Linked DNA regions of Homo sapiens: region 2 is linked to region 1. Evidence: fine-mapped expression QTL. Tissue or cell type: whole blood. Region 1 holds a variant in brackets; the other region holds the start of a gene. All regions are shown on one strand. Distances are between the middles of the regions.

Region 1 (8,100 bases):
CGAAGGTGGATGGTCAGGGCACAGAGTGTGGCAGGCAGTGGTGACGAAGGGACTGGCCAGGCTGGTTGTGGCAGTCACAAGGTGGTCCAGAACACCCCCCTCCTGAGGAGACGGGGCAAAGGGGAGGCTCAAGGTAGCCTGCAGCCGTTCTAGGAGTGAAGGGGCAACCTGGGCCTGGGCCTGGGCCTGGGCCACGAGCCCGGACAAGGCCGGCCACTCGGGCTTGTAGTGCTGGCTAAGCTGCTCCACTTGGGGCCGCCTCAGCAGCTGCCGAATCCTCCACACGGTGTCGAAGCTGTCGGTCAGCACTGCCCATTCCAGGGCCGTCTTGCCCCGAACAGGGTCCACTGCTGTCAGGTCAGCACCTGGGAAGGAGCACAGGGGGTGACATGGGGCGGGATAGGGGTTGGTGATTTGTGGAAGGGCAGATTCTTTAGGAGCAAGACTGATGTGGGTTACATTCGAAGCCATAGAGTCCCATCCTGTTGAAGGTGGAATCAGGGAGGCCAGTGTTGCAACCTCCTGTTTAAGAGAGATTAAGACACTTAGGTCCAGAGAGGGGAAAAGACTTCAGAGAGACCTATTGTGGGGCTCCACCTAGGGCAGAATAGGGATCTCCTCAATCCAAGGAGCTGAGCAGAGCAGCGGTGCAGGCTGCCCAGGACAGGCAGAGGCCTGAGCTGCACCCTCTGGGGCAGGTGGGTGGGGATGATCGGCTGGTTCCCTCTCCTGGTTCTTCTCTTCTCACCATCTCCCTCTCCCATCTTGGGGTTGTGGGAGGAGCAGTCACTCTAAGACAAAAGAAAGGGTGTAGAGCGCCCTCCTTTTTCATTCACTCCTTTTTCACTCCAAACCCAGTGGGGTGTGTGGGGAAGGGAAAAATGGAGGCAGGGGTCCCCCAGAGTGACCAGCAGAGGGCAGCCCCACTGCGGGGAAGAAGGGCCCCCAAACAACTCCATGGACAATGTGGACTTCACCGCACCTCCCCCTGAACGACCCCACAGAGCCACAGGCCTCAACGACACTTCCCTGGATCCCCTGGAAGCCTGGCTTGTCAGAGTTGGAGGTAGTCCCAGGGAAAGCTAACACCCTCACAATACTGGTGAGGCCCAAAGAGGGAAGCCACTCAGCTAGGAACAGGGGCTGGTTCCAGATGCCAGCCTTTTTTCGTGTTAGATTTTCCAGCTGGGCTAGGTTCCCCTCCCACACTTTCCTTCCTGGGACCTCCACACACAATGTCTGAGCTATCAATAGCAGGACTTGGTTGATTGTACGAAGCCCAAATCATGTGCCCCCCCCTCCAGGAAGGTGAACTAGATTGATCCCCCATCTCCACCTCTCTCCTTTCTGCAAATAATCACAGCTGACTTAGTGTCTGGTGGGAAGGCTTGGAGGAGGGACTGGAGGCCACACACCCCGGTCCAGGCCCCGCACACCTGCCATGAGGAGGGTGGCCACGCACTCACAGCGGTTCCGCATGGCAGCCTTCATTAACGCCGTGAGCCCCCGCTGGTCCCGGCGTTCCAGGTCCAGGCCCACATAGTAGTTGAGCAGGAGACTCACTAGAGGCACGTGGCCTGCAGGGCAGCAAGGGTAAGCTTGGTCCCCAGGAAAGGGGGTGATGAAGCTCCCAAACCGCCCTCCACCCAGCATGACAGAGTCTGGTGTAGAACACCGTGCAACAAGGGTGGGGCTGAGGCCCTGTCTGCATCAAAAGGGGGCTGTCGGAAGTGGGGTGCAGCAGCCTCACACCTGCTTGGGCAGCCAACATGAGGGCCGTGTCCCCTCCTTTGTCCTGCTGGTTCACATCAAGGAAAGGACAGTGGCTGAGCAGGGCCACAACACTCTGGAAGCCGTGGTAGCATGCGACCATGAGGCCTGTCTGAGGGAGGGGCAGCTCAGATCCCCTGCTTTCCCCCTGGGCCACTCCAGGGCCCCTTGCACCCTCTAAACCCATATCTGTCCCAGAGCCTGCCCCAAACCCCGTGAAGACCCGCCCTTAACCATTCCCTTCCTCCTTAGGACTGCAGGAGGTATTGCCCCTGAACCCCTCTCAGGGAGCCAGGCCAGGACGGTGTGGTGGGGATGCAAAGATGCCCCCAGCTGTTCTGGGAAGCCAGGACATCTCACCCTCCCATTGCTGTCCACCTGGGTGGCCTCCTCTGGGGAGACCCCACCATCCAGTATGGCTTGGAGCTGGGTGGGATCATTGTGGACACAGGCCCAATACAGGGCCCCCAGCCTGCAGCCTGGGGTGGGGGTCTCCTTGCCCGGGCAGGGCAGTGCCTCAGACATGTCCAGCCGTCTCCTGTGCAATGCCAGCTCTTCCTCTTCCAGGCAGGGAACCAGAAGGTGAGTCCCTTTTCTCATGCAGCTGGCATCTAAAACACAGAATGGAGAGGAGTAGTGAGTGTCTCCCTGGATCCTAGGGAGGGGACCCAGCAGCTGCGAAGTGCACAGCCCTTGCCCCAGGGAAAACATTTATCCCAGCAGGGGTCTCGCCCCATCCACCCTGAGAAAGGACAAGCGCTGGGTCAGGAGCCCTAAGCAAGCAGGGTTCACTCTAGGTCAGCACCCCAGTGAGACTCACGGAGAGAGGGTCGTCGTTTTTTCTTACTTGGGGTTCGTAGGGTATCTATGAGGCAGTCAACGCGGGGCACAGCCCAGGCTCCGCGGAGCACAATCACTGGGTCTCCGAATGCCTCCAGGTGGACTATCCCTCCCCAGGAAGCAACGCAGGTAACAGATGGCTGGACTTTCATAAAGAGCTGCTGCAAACACCTCGGGGCTGAGCCGGATCAAGCAGCTGGGACTGGGGCCCCATGCGGGGCGGGTGGTCACGTCTCAGGAGCGGACTCAGACCAGCCCCAAGATCCTCCGGGTGGGCGGGGCCTGAGCCGGGCAGCTCCTCCCCGCCGGGGCGGGCTCACAAAGACGACTCCTCCTGACGGACGCGCCCACTCTCAGCCTTGGGGACGCCGGCGGAGATGCTGCCTCGTGGGGTCTTGGCCCAACTTTTTAGGCCCAGCCTAAAGCCCCTCCTAATTGGGTGGAGCGCGACTTGCTGAAGGGGTGGTTGCGGGAGAGGGGGTGAGTGAATGCAGGTATCTCATTAAATAGGGTTGGTACTCTCAGAATGACCCTGGGGTGGGGTCTCCAGGGGGGTCACCTGAACTTATTTTTTGAGGTTCTGGGGAAATAAAAACATAATTGTCAAATTATGAGTATAGAGCTGGGCCCGGTGGCTCACGTCTGTTATCCCAGCGACTCAGGAGGCTGAGGTGGGAGGATCGCTTGAGCCCGGGAGGTCGAGGCTGCAATGAACCGATGTCGCGCCACTGAACTCTAGCCTGGGCAACAGAGGGAGACCTCCTTTTAAAAAAAAATTGTGGCCAGGCGGGGTGGCTCACGCCTGTAATCCCAGCACTTTGAGATTCCAAGACGGGTGGATTATCTGAGGTCAGGAGTTCAAGAACAGCCTGGCTAACATGGCAAAACCCTGTCTCTACTAAAAATACAAAAATTAGCTGGGCTTGGTGGTGGGCGCCTGTAATCCCAGCTACTCAGGAGGCTGAGGCAGGAGAATCACTTGAACCCGGGAGGCAGAGGTTGCAGTAAGCCGGGATCGCACCATTGCTCTCCAGCCTAGGCAACAAGAGCGAAACTCCTTCTCAAAAAACAAAACAAACAAACAAACGAAATTGTGAGTACCGACATTATGTGTCTAGTGCAGGTGGGCAGTCGGGGCACAAAGTGCGGCAGGCAGTAGTGAGGGAGGGATTGGCCAGAAATTATGATGTATGAAATTTAATAGATTAGTTTCAGTGTGATAAATTAAATATGAAATATTTAAATTAAATGATCTGTTAATATAATGATAAATTGTTATCAAAATATTCTTTAATATTTATATTACATATTAAGCTTGATGGATTGGTCTTGGTCCACAGATGTAGAAAATGGAGCCAATGATATTCCCCCATTGGTATCACTCCCATCATCAGACTGTACAAGACCTCTCTCTTGTTTTGTTTTACTTTCTTTAGTTTCTCTCTTTCACCCTTAATCCCCACATCCCATTCTCCTCCACCCTTTACCAACTGGCACTTGTATATCCTTGAAAATGTACATTTCATTGAAAAAGATAGTACTGATTTGTGTGTTTTTATTTTATTTTTTTCTTTTTAGAAACAGGGTCTTACTCTGTCACCTGGGCTGGAGTGGAGTGGCATGATCATAGCTTACTGCAGCCTCAAACTCCTGGGCTTAAGTGATTCTCCCACCTCAGCCTCCCGAGAAGCTACGAGCTTCTCGGAGGCACACAGGTGTGTGCCACCGCGCCTGTCTAACTTTTTTATGTAGAGATGGGGATCTCACTTTGTTGCCCAGGCTGGTCTCAAACTCCTGGCATCAAGTGATCCTCCTGTCTTGGCATCCCACAGTGCTGGGATTGCAGGCATGAGCCTCCATGCTCTGCTTGTATGTGTTTTTAACTAACATGTTATGAATTGTGCTATAGAACTTATTCTGTTAGTTTTTTCTTTTTCACTTAAGCTCCATCCTTATTGCTTTAGGTGCAGTGTATCAGTTGGATGTGCATTTGGTTTTTAGTAACCAAAAAGCTGAATGGTATGTTGTCCATAATAGACGGGCTCCTCAACATTAATCTAAAACTGCTTTCAGTGTTTCTTCTGCGCTGCAGAAGTTGGAAAGCTAAAACAACCCTTCCCAGATTCCCTTGAGCTATGACTCTGTGGTTTGCGTCCTGCTCTTGTGCAAGATATAAATTTGGAACAGAGCTAC[G/A]TAGCATGGGACATCCGTTTTGCTGTCACAGGTCATGGCAGCAGCAGCAAGGCTCTGGTGAGCAGCTTCCTGATTCATCAGCTTCCTGTAGTAGTGACTGTTGTTTTCTCAATCACAGGCAGAGGTCATGTGACTCTCAAAGCTGGGGGTTGTTCCTGGACCTAAGCCTGCTTCTCCATCCCTTTCTGTTTAAACTGATCAGATTTCTTTCTTTCTTTCTTTCTTTCTTTCTTTTTTTTTTTTTTTTGAGACAGAGTTTCACTCTTGTTGCCCAGGCTGGAGTGCAATGGCGCGATCTCGGCTCACCACAACCTCCGCTTCACGGGTTCAAGTGATTCTCCTGCCTCAGCCTCCCCAGTAGCTGGGATTACAAGTATGTGCCACCACCCCGGCTAATTTTGTATTTTTAGTAGAGACGGGGTTTCTCCATGTTGGTCAGGCAGGTCTTGAACTCCTGACCTCAGTTGATCAGCCCACCTCGGCCCCCTAAAGTGCCGGGATTATAGGCGTGAGCCACTGCACCAGGTCCAGATTTATTTCTGTTGTCTGCAATTGAACTCTGACACATGTAGCTTAAACAAAGAGGTGCTTGTTTTTAATACATGATAAAAAGTTCAGGAATAGGAAACTGTTGATGTTGGTTAAGAAACTTGTCAGGGCCTTCTCTGGGATTCTCTTGACTTTTCCTCCTTGGCACAAGATGGCTGCTAAACCTCTAGCCATCACAGCAAAATGGGATAGATGCACCCTATGGAATTCTATACAGCAGTTAGAAAAAAATCTATCAGATGATAAACCAGACATCTCTGATTATCTAACACAATCCCTGTTCATAACTCCCCTTCTCTCTAGTTACCTTTCAGTTAGGTGTTATCATGTAATGCAGTTTTGGCCAATGAAATGCAAACAGAAGTCTGATGGATAGGGATTCTAGGAAAAAAGTTCATGCTGTTGTTGTAAATAAATTTTCAATGCTGCAAGGAAATAGCACTCGAACATAAATTTAATTTTCTCAGCATGGCAATTTTTACTTCTATAGAAGGGTGCGAGTCGTGAATGGAACAATGGCAAGAGCACACCTGGACAGGAGAGGAGAAGGAGTTCTTATTCCTGACACACGGCCCTACTGCTGTGGCGTTCCCCTATTGGCTAGGGTTGGACCGCACAGCCTAAGCTAATTCCGATTGGCTATTTTAAAGAGAGCAGGGATATGAGTTAGAGTGGCGGGGTGGGTAGTTTGGCGGGAAGGACAGTTAGGAACAGGGAACTAAAGGTGACTTAGATCAGAGCAGGTGACCAGGGTGACTCAGGTCAAAGCAGGTGACTGGGATGACTCAGGTCAAAGCAGATAAACGGGATGAGTCAGGATGGAGCAGCTGACCAGAGAACAGATGTGAACTACTGATTAGGACTAGAGGGAAAGTTGTTTACTAAAACCAGGAGCAAGGGAACGGAAGAGAACCAGGAAGCTAAACTTTAAAATGGATAATCAAAGAATAAGAGAGCTGAACATACTGACATACTGATTCTTTGAAGAGAAACTTGGGGTTCACTATAATTAACACTGTCTTGATGAAAGATGTAGAGTGCACCACTTTTTTTCTTTCTTTCTTCCCTCTTTCTTCCCTCTTTCTTCCTGCTTATAGAATTCCATAGTGTGCATCCACCTCATTTAGCCTATCCCTTCTTCCTGCAATAGATGCTTAGGTTGCCTCCAACTTCCTGTCACTATAAATAATGCCAAAGTGAACACCCTCATACGTATCTAGTTGTGGACCCATCGGGGTCTCTGAGATCACTAGATCACAGGGCACATACACACTTACTGAGTGGATACTCAGGTTGCACTCTGTTTCACCATGTGTGCCTACCAGCAGTGCATAAGAGTCTCCCTACGTCTTAGACAACACATGTCATTATTCAGCCTTCTAATGTTTGTCAATCTGATAGAACTATAAAGCGATATTGCTATTTTACATTGAATTTTTCTGATTATCAACAAGGTGAGCATCTCTCCACATGCCCTGCTGGCCAATCTTGTTTTCCCTCCTGTGAATTGACTGTTCATGGCCTTTGCTCAGTATTCTATTGAATTTTCCTATCCTTTTCTTATTGATTTTTCAGGAATTCTTTTAATATTCTAGATAATAAAGCCATTGTCAGATGGGTTATAGATGAGGCAACTGTACTATATAAACCCTTCTGTTAGCTTTATCTATGGTGACCTTCATTGAAATAGCTCCTGAATTTTGATATGGTTAAATTCACCAGAATTTCTCCTTATACTTTGTGTTCAGGGTCTTGTTTACTAAGAATTTTCTACTCCAAGATCACAAAGATCTTCATTTCTTTTATTAATCTTGCAGTTTTATTTTTAATATTTAGTCTTTAATTCATCTGGAATTCACTTTTATAATATTGAAGAAATAATCTGTTATAGACTAAATTGTGTCTCCCTCAACCAACCCCAATTCATATATTGAAGCCCTGACACCAAAAATGACTGTGTTTGGAGACAGGGCCTTTAAGGAGGTAATTAAGGTTAAATGAAGTTATTAGGGCAGGATAGGGCCCTAATCCAATAGAACTGTTGTCCTTATAAGAAGAGGAAGAGACACCAGAACTCTCTCTCTCTGTGCCTGCACAAGAAAAGGACACGTGAGGACACAGTCAGAAGGTACCATCTACAAGCCAAGGAGAGAGGCCTCTCTGGAGACCAATCCTGCTGACACCTTGATTTTGGATTTCTAGCTTCCAGAACTGTGAGAAAATACATTTCTGTTGTGTAACCCATCCAGCCTGTGTATTTTGTTAAAGCAACCTGAACAGACTAATAAAGGATCCAACCTTATTTTTTTCTCCATTTAGCAAGATAACTCCATCTATTAAACAATTCTCTCTCCCTTGATTTGTGGTGTCGTTTTTATCACATGTAAACGTTGAGTTCTCTTTTATGTTTTATGCTATGTTTCAGTTATCTTATAGCATCTTATGAGGGCATTCCTGTGCCAATGCTACACTGATTTTATTACTCTAGCCTTGTAGTCTCTCTGACTACCTGATAGAGTAAGTTCTCCATATCTGATTTTCTTTTTTGAAGTTGATTTTTATTCTCTCATGTAAAATTGCATATAAGATTGTTGGGTTCTTTTAAAATTTTTGCTACAGTTTTGATAGGCATTTATTTGAATTTATAGAGTAATTTGGGGAAAATTGACTGCCTCATAATGTTAGATCTTCTCTCCTCCCTGAACATGGGATACGCTATGATCTGAGTGTTTGTTTCCCCCAGAATTC
Region 2 (8,100 bases), 21 kb before region 1:
ACACCCACATGACAGAATTCTAGGTGGACATCCTGTGAATCACAAAATCCAGCTCCTTGTTTTACAGAAGAGAGGAGTAAGGCTCATACAGGGAAGAAGACTTGTCCCGGGTCAGACAGGACTCACTGGCACCAGCAGGCGTACATCCCAGGTTTCCAGACTCCTAATCAAGTGCTCTCTTCGCTCTGTCCCTATCCAGTGGTGGCAGCCCATGTCTGAGCCCTCAGGGCTATAACAACCATGCAAAGCTCGGACGGGGCAGGGTCATGCCAGGTGTAGAGAAACCTCTCTGCAAGCTCACCAGAGTATAAGCTGCCCTCTCGGAGCTGTTCCCTGGCCCCCTTCTTTCCCCTTGCCATCTAGGAAAGGGTGGGTGGAGGGCCAGTGATGTGGCAGGGGAAGTGAAACACACTTAGACACTGAATGTTTGACCTTCCATGGCTGACTAGGGTTGAACTTTTCCAGAAGTTTGTTGGAGAGTGTTAGGGGGAGTAATTCTGGTCTATGATAGTCCCCAATCCAGGTCCCACACCAACTAGTGCTTCTGAAGCCACCCAGTCTTCATTTCTCACAGGTTTAGAACCAGAAGATATTGGCTAAAGCTGCAGCAAGAAGGACCCTGGTCAGACAGCAACAGGACTTTCTGAATGGTGGAGCATGTGCAGGTGTGTGTCTGGGGACTGGATCCTCAGGCAGGGCACAAGGCAGGGAGACTGTCCTTTGGCATGACATGGTGAGCCTGACAGGGCTGGGCACATGGCCACAGAGGCTTCAGAAAGCCCATAGTCTAAGAATGGTGCCAAATGAAGACCCAAGATGCTGAGGCTCTGAGGGCAGTATGGCTAGGGGTGGGGTAGGGGGGCTTCATAGGCCTCTCTGGCTGGTGGCAGGCCTGGCCTTCCTGCCTGGGCTTCCTCTGCCCCAGAGGCCCAGGCTGGGGGAGGAAACAGAGCCCTGGGCTGCTGCAGCTGTGTCCCCAGCCTCTGCCTGACCTCCTGCCTCTTGCCCCTCCCGCAGCCAGTGAGGACTCTGGCTAGCACTGTGCGGCAGGACTGACGGTGGGATGGGATGGAGAGAGCACCCTAGAGGAGCTGAATCTGCCCACTGGGGTACTAGCAGGAAGCCATCCTTGGCAGCCTTTGCTAGCCCAGAAAGCTGCAAAGGAGAGGGTTTGAGGTGGAAAGGAAAAAGTGGCTAACAATAAGGCTAAAATCCGGCATTCCTCTAGGATCCTCTGTCCGTACCTCTACTTCTCTGGCCGTGCCCCAGTCCACCCTCCTTCTACTTTATCACGCATCAGAATCACCTGAAGTGCTCACTGAGAAAAGCATATTCACTGGTTTCACCCTCACTCCAGACTCTGATTCAGTCCTGGAATCAGCAAGAAACATGCATTTTTTAAAAGTTCCCCAGGGAGTTCTGATCAGTTTGTGTGGGCACAACGCTAAGTCTGGTTCCTCTGCTTTCATTTTGCTGTACAGGGCCCTGCTGGGTGAGTGGGAGTGGGATGCAGAGGGAGGGGACACTCACTCCCACCCAGGATACTCCCCATCTACTACAGAAGGGACAGCCAAGGGTAAACACCAAAGCTGGGACGTGGTGACACTGTGGAGCGAGGCTGTCTGCATCTGCAGAACCCATCTATGGTCTAATCCTGGGAATGTGATGGAGTAAAATTGGGACTGTCCAATTTTTAACTGGACCCAGTGTGAGATCAAGTACAGGAGGATGCTGAGTCCCGACCAGTCCAAACTCAGAGCTGACTCTGTACGATTTACCCTGAAATCTGACTGTAGCACAGACAGACTCCTGGGGCCTGGCAGGATCCTTTCACTTCTAAGCAAAACTTTGTGAAAGATCTCCTGCTGACAGAAGCATCACTATTGTTGGCCAGAAATTACAGACGTTAAACTAATTTCAAACGTTAGCTAAACACTATGAAATACTTAATAATAACAGTTAACCTTCTCTGAGTACTAATTATGTGCTAAGTACTGAACTTGAATGGTTTATCTGATTTAATCATCACAACAGTCCAACGGGGGAAAGTGAGGCTCAGAGATGTTCAGTTTCTTGTCCATAGTCACTGAGCGTGTCTTAATAAACTTAAATTGCTGATAATAAATCATTCCTTGGTCATTGTTATTCCTCCAGTTGTTTGGGGTTAGATGAGTCCCTCAAAGGAAGAAAAAGACATGGGTCTCGGTGGACGTGTACAAATTGCCCACTACTGTTGTTATTAACGGGTGCCCTACTCAGATTTGTTTAAATGAAGACAGCGTTTTTGTTTGTTTTTAATTTTTTTTGAGACAGGGTCTTGCTCAGTCGCCCAGGCTGGAGTGCAGTGGTGCAATCATAGCTCACTGTAGCCTTGAACTCCTGGGCTCAAGTGATCCTCCCACCTCAGCCTCCCAAGTCCCAAGGGACTACAGGGGTGCAGCACCATGCCCAGTTTTATTTTTAGTAGAGATAGGGTCTCACTATGTTGACCCAGGCAACAAAGGTGGTGTTGCTGCCCAGAAATCATCTGTTTGCCATAGGCTTAGTCAAAGTCTGAGCCTCAGGTGGGGAGAGCCAGAGTAGTGGTATGCCCGAAAGGTGCTTATCAATGTTTTTCTCCCTAGCACACCTGAAGGATTGATAAAACCTACTCCCATCAACGGCAGTGGCTCAGCACAGCAGTGATCTTCACAGGGCTGGAGAAGCGCCATATCAAGCACAACCTTCTGGACTCACTCTGCACTTCAGTAGGCCTTACCCCAACAGCAGAGGAGCAGACCCAGCTGTTCATATTGGGTTGCCCTTACGATTCATCCATGTGATTTATTAGCCCTTCACAGCGGGGTGATGCAGTGGAACATCCAGGTGATGCCTGGATTTTCAGGTCTCAGGCAGACCATGGAGGCAGCACAGTGTAGCACAGAGGTTAGGGTGTGGGCTCTGGAGCATGGAGACCTGGGTTCAAATCCTGCCTTTGCCACTTAGAGGTATGAAATTTGAGACGTTACTTAAACTTTCTGAGGCTTAGGCTTCCCATCATATGTAAAGTGGGAATAATAATAGTGTTATCTCATAGGTAAAATGTAGTACAATTATTTAGCAGAGTATAAGTAGTACACAGTAAGCACTGAAATGTTATCAAGACCCCAACCATGCCATTCACCCCACCATCCAAGGAGTTTTGGACAAGTCCCATATTCATGTCTGTTTCCTTTTCTGTAGGAAGGGGATAGTAACCCCTCTTCCACTAGGTTGCGGCCAGGATTACATGAGAAAAAATATATATATCTAAGTGTCTACATAGTTAGTACTCAATCAATGGTAGCTATTTCTAACAAACCAATGAAATGGGGGGACAGGTGAGAGGACAGGTATTAGGACAGACCCTGACTCAGCCAGAAGCTGGCCATACATAGAGAGAGTGAGAGCAACTGTCCATTATGCCCCTGTCCTTGGAGAAGGAAAGAGGAGCTGGGGCAGCCAGCCCAGCCATGGGTTTCACAGCACTGGCCTCCATGGAAAAATCTGGGGTCCCAGCCTGGGGGGAGACTGGGATCCCCTTTGGCCTGGATCCTGAAGGAAGGTCGTGGCAAGGAGGTGACTGACCATGCGCGCCTAGGGTGAGACTCCTAGGTTGGAGTGATAGTGTCAGATTCCTCAAGCAACAGCTGGAAGGACTGATCTGGGAAAGGTGAGCTCTGCTGGGAGGCTCAACAGCTGTGGAAGTAGGCATTCACTCCAGGTCCACCCAGCGGCCTGGAGGACGTGTGATCCCTTCTATGTGAGTAGAGCAAGACAGGAATCCCACTGCCCATTTTATGAAGAGGGTAGGAGAACAGAGAAGTGAAGTCACTGACCCCAGGTCACCCGACTAGAACCAAGTTTCTGATTTCCAGTCCAGTCTCGTCCATTCCCCTCCAAGTCTCAGGTAGGGTCATGGGAGCTGTGCGTGGTCAGCCAGGAGCAGCTTGCCTTTCTAATGAGCTGGGACTGAGCCTCCCGCGACCACTCTGCGGTGACTCTGGGGTCCGCCCGAAGGAAGGGCCCACTGAAGCGGGGGTCAGGCCGCCCGCCACCCGGTCCCGTCCGCGGACCTCGACTCACCTCTGGGCCCGCTCTGCGGGTGGCGGGGCGCTAGCCTTCGGCGGACCGGGGCCACCTCCCCTCCACCGCGCGGCCGCAGTTGCACCGCCAGCGCTGGACGGCGGGCTGGGGTCCGGGCGCGGCCCCGGACCGGGCTGGAGCCGGGGAGGGGCTCGCTCGGCGCAGCTGGCGCGGCAGCCTCCCGGGACTGGGATGGGGGCTGGAGCAAAAATGTTTCTTATTCCAGCGTCTTCCTGCCTGGCCCAGCTCCACCACTCCCTCCTAATAAACCGTTTCCTTATTGCCCAGCTCGCCGACTGGCCGCCGCTCGCCCCTCGCTGGGGCTGCAGGACCGGGACCCACCCCCGCGCCGCTCCCAGCCCCTCAGGGCGGCCTCCCCTCCCAGCCGCCCGCAGCTCCCGGGTCGCTGGCCCGCACCCGGGCCGGGCCTCCCACATCCGCCTCCCCGAGGGGGCGGGCCTTGGACTCAGGCCGTGGGGGTCCTGTGGGGGTCCCATAGGGGTCCCGTGGGGTCCGGACCCACAGCCGTGGGAGACAGAGCCGAGACTGTAGGCAACGTCTGGCGGCCGGAGTAGTGGGTGGGGGTAGAGGGGGATCGGCTGGCAGCAGCGGAGGGGCCGCCTGGAATCGGGGCGCCGGGAAGGGGCCACCGAGGAAGGGACAGGCGGGGGTGGGACGGGGAGGGACACTACCTATCCTTACCCCACCCTCAGCCCGGGGGTCCTCGGTCTAGGAGGCTTGCAGCAATGAGGGCAGAGTTTGGGGCTAGCAAAATCCAGATGCGTTTTGACTCCGCCCTCGGGAACTCCCGACTTGGCCCAAATCCTTCAGTCCCCTCCCTCGGGCCCCTTCGTCCCCCATTTGTCCCCTCCTGTCTTCAGCAGCCTCTCCCGATCCGCACTCAGCACAGGGGTATACAGGCCCAGAGGACGGCCTTGGGTTAGCCCTGAGGATGGTTTGAGCCCTTCCTGGCCGTTGTGCAGCTGGGTGACAAAGACACCCCCGCCCCGCCAGGGACAGTCAGGATGGAGGGACACGCTGGGAGCAGCCTTGGACCTTCCCCTTCCAGGCAGGGCCCCCACCCCAGCAAATGGAGCTTTAGATAGAGGTGGGGAATGGAGCCTCCCTGGAACTCTGCTGACACAAGGCAGCTGGGGAGGGAAGCAGAATGGCTTCATACCGGCAGGGGAGGGGGACACAGACTCTTCCTGATGCTCCTGCACAGGCTGGGAGCACTGACCTCACTGCCCTGCTTTGCTCCAACCATCTAAGTACCTGCAGGACTCTGGTCTTAGTCCTAGCCTCCTGGTTATCCACAGAGACTCTGAAGTCAAACTACCTACTAGGAATGCAGGCTGGTTGTGTTACCGTAGGCTAGTGACACCTCTCCATGCTTCAGTCCCCCATCTGCTAAATAGGCATAGTAAACCGTGCCAGCCTCATAGGGTGGTTGTGAGAATAGACGGAAATGATGCTTATCTCAGCTCATAGCAAAGATGCTGGCTGGCTGAGCCTGACTCAGAGGAGGCCCTCAATGAAGGCGTTCGTTAATTAAATGAATAAATGAAAAGGCTGGGGAGGGGGTGGCCTCAGAGACACTTGGAAAGACGTGGGTATTAGAAGCAGGAGTAGACCTCTAAGGTGTCTTACTCTAATATGGGGATTCTACAAGATGAGCCAGGGACCCCTCCTCCTGCCCCGCCCCACCTTTTGACAGGAATAGAGGCTGGGGGAGATAATGGCTAAAAGCTCAGACAGGCATCAATTATTGACTGACCTCACTTCCTCTGCTGAAACCCTCCCCATCCCCCACCCCACAGCTGCTTCACAAGTTGTGAGCGTTGTGAATTCCCAGAACCCTGACACACCCAAATTTCAGTGTCAGGACAGAACTGTGTCCTGCAGCCAATAGGAAGTACTATGGGATTACGATATCTGCTCTTTCAGATTATAGCGGCCACTTGGGCCCTCTACGAGCTGGAGAACTGGGAGCCTGGCCGCGGGTCTGTCTTTCACACTCTCTCTCCCTGCTCCGCTATGGCTTCTGGTCAACCTTTTCCTCCCCCAACCCCTGGATCTCTGTCCTGAGAAGCGAGAGTCGGGGCTTCCCAAAGGAAGCCTTTAGTCTGAGAGGCACACTGAGCACAGAAACTTCGAGATGGACAAAAGCTGAGAGTCACTTCTAACAGTCAGTGGGGGATGGAAGACTATCTGGACCAGCGTTCGTGAAACAGATAAAAATAGAGTACATTTTGGGAGCTGGAAGAGAGGACCCAGGGGGGGCTGGAGTCTGTTCATCAGTGCTGGAATCTTCCCCATCTCCCCAGAGCACTGAGCCCTCTGGCCCCTGACTGGTGCTCTTTGGGGCTCTTGTGAACCCCATGCCTTCCAAAGCACACAGAGAACCTGGGGGAGGTGTCAGAGTTGGAGATCCAGAGTTGGAGAAAGCCCTGGAGAGTCATCCCAATGAGAAAAGGGAAAAGGAATTACAGACTGTGTCCAAGTCTACAAGAATTAATTACTCAGAGGGACCAGCTGTTCCCCATATTCAGTGAGGACAGAACAAGAGGAAACAGGCCCAAAGGACAAAGATTTAGATTTAGATACTCAGAAGGATTTCCCAACACTGCAGGAAGCAGAGGCCTGGAGATTCTGTGTGGGGTGAAACCTCAAGCAGATTCTCATCTGTGGAAGGTGGGTGACATGGAGTCTGTCAGGAAGGCAGGGCAATGGACACCTTCACCTTTCAGGACCAGCTATGAGTATTAAGTTCAAGCATCATTCTTTTTTTTTTGAGATGGAGTCTCACAGTGTCGCCCAGGCTGGAGTGCAGTTGCGTGATCTCAGGTCTGCCTCCCAGGTTCAAGTGATTCTCCTGTCTCAGTCTCCCAAGTAGCTGGGATTACAGATGCGTGCCTCCACGCCTGGCTAATGTTTGTATTTTTAGTAGAGACGGGGTTTCACCATGTTGTACAGGCTGGTCTCGAACTCCTGACCTCAGCTGATCCACCCACTCAGCCTCCCAAAGTGCTGAGATTACAGGCATAAGCCACCCCACCCAGACTCAAACATCACTCTTGATACTAGTGCGGGGCTGGCTTCATGGGAGTGTGACCTGTGCAGATGCACAGGGCCCCATGCTTGGTTTAATGCGCTGTCATTGCCATCTTAAAATTCTTAATGATATATTTTTTTTCCATTTATTTAGGTCTCTTTTATTTATCAGTGTTCTTGTAGTTTTCAGCATTTAACTCCTTTATGTGTTTTGTTACACTTATACTTTTTAAAAGCAATTATAAACAGGATATGCTATTTTTAATTTTTGTGTCCATTTGTTCATTAAATTATATAGAAATATAATCGATTTTTACATATTGATCTTGTATACTGTGACCTTGCTGAACTCACTTATTCAAGGGGGTGAGGTATTTGGGTTTTCTACCCCTCATGGATTCTTTGGGATTTTCTACATCGACAGTCATCTGCATCTGCAAATAGAGACAGTATTATTTCTTACCTTCCAATATGCATATCTTTTATTTCCTTTTCTTACCTGACTGCACTAGCTAAAACTTCTAGCATTATGTTGAATAAGAGTGGTCAAAACAGAACAGCCATCCTTGCCTTGTTTCTCTTAGGAGAACACACTCAATCTATTAATCATAATGTTAGCCGTAAGTTTCTTGTAGTAGCCACTCTATATCAGATTGAGAAAGTTCCCCCATTCCTCTTTTGTGTGTGTGTGTGTATTCTTATCATGGATGGCTATTGAATTTTGTCAAATGCCTTTTCTGCATCCACTGATACGAATTGTGTAATTTCTCTTTGTTAGTCTGTTAATACGGTAGATTATGTTGACTGATTTTCTCTTCTTTCTTTTTCTTTTTTTTTTTTTTTGAAACAGAGTTTTGCTCTTGTTGCCCAGGCTGGAGTACAATGGCGTGATCTCGGCTCACTGCAATATCTGCCTCCTGGGTTCAAGCGATTCTCCTGCCT

The links. PIP is the estimated chance that this variant, and not a neighbour inherited with it, causes the effect.
Region 2: ACVRL1 starts here. The variant in region 1 is fine-mapped to the expression of ACVRL1 in whole blood (TOPMed, PIP above 0.99).

What each region holds. Positions count from the first base shown.
Region 1 is chr12:51,882,849-51,890,948 of GRCh38, reverse strand. ANKRD33 (ankyrin repeat domain 33) reads right to left here and starts at 2,846. Exons shown (of 5, transcript NM_182608.4): 1 at 2,618-2,846; 2 at 2,131-2,381; 3 at 1,753-1,882; 4 at 1,467-1,577; 5 at 1-365. The coding sequence starts at 2,762. The variant G/A (reference allele first, on the strand shown) is at 4,804.
Region 2 is chr12:51,903,700-51,911,799 of GRCh38, reverse strand. It overlaps ACVRL1 (activin A receptor like type 1), which reads right to left and starts at 4,296. Exons shown (of 10, transcript NM_000020.3): 1 at 4,105-4,296. RefSeq lists an enhancer at 3,627-4,135.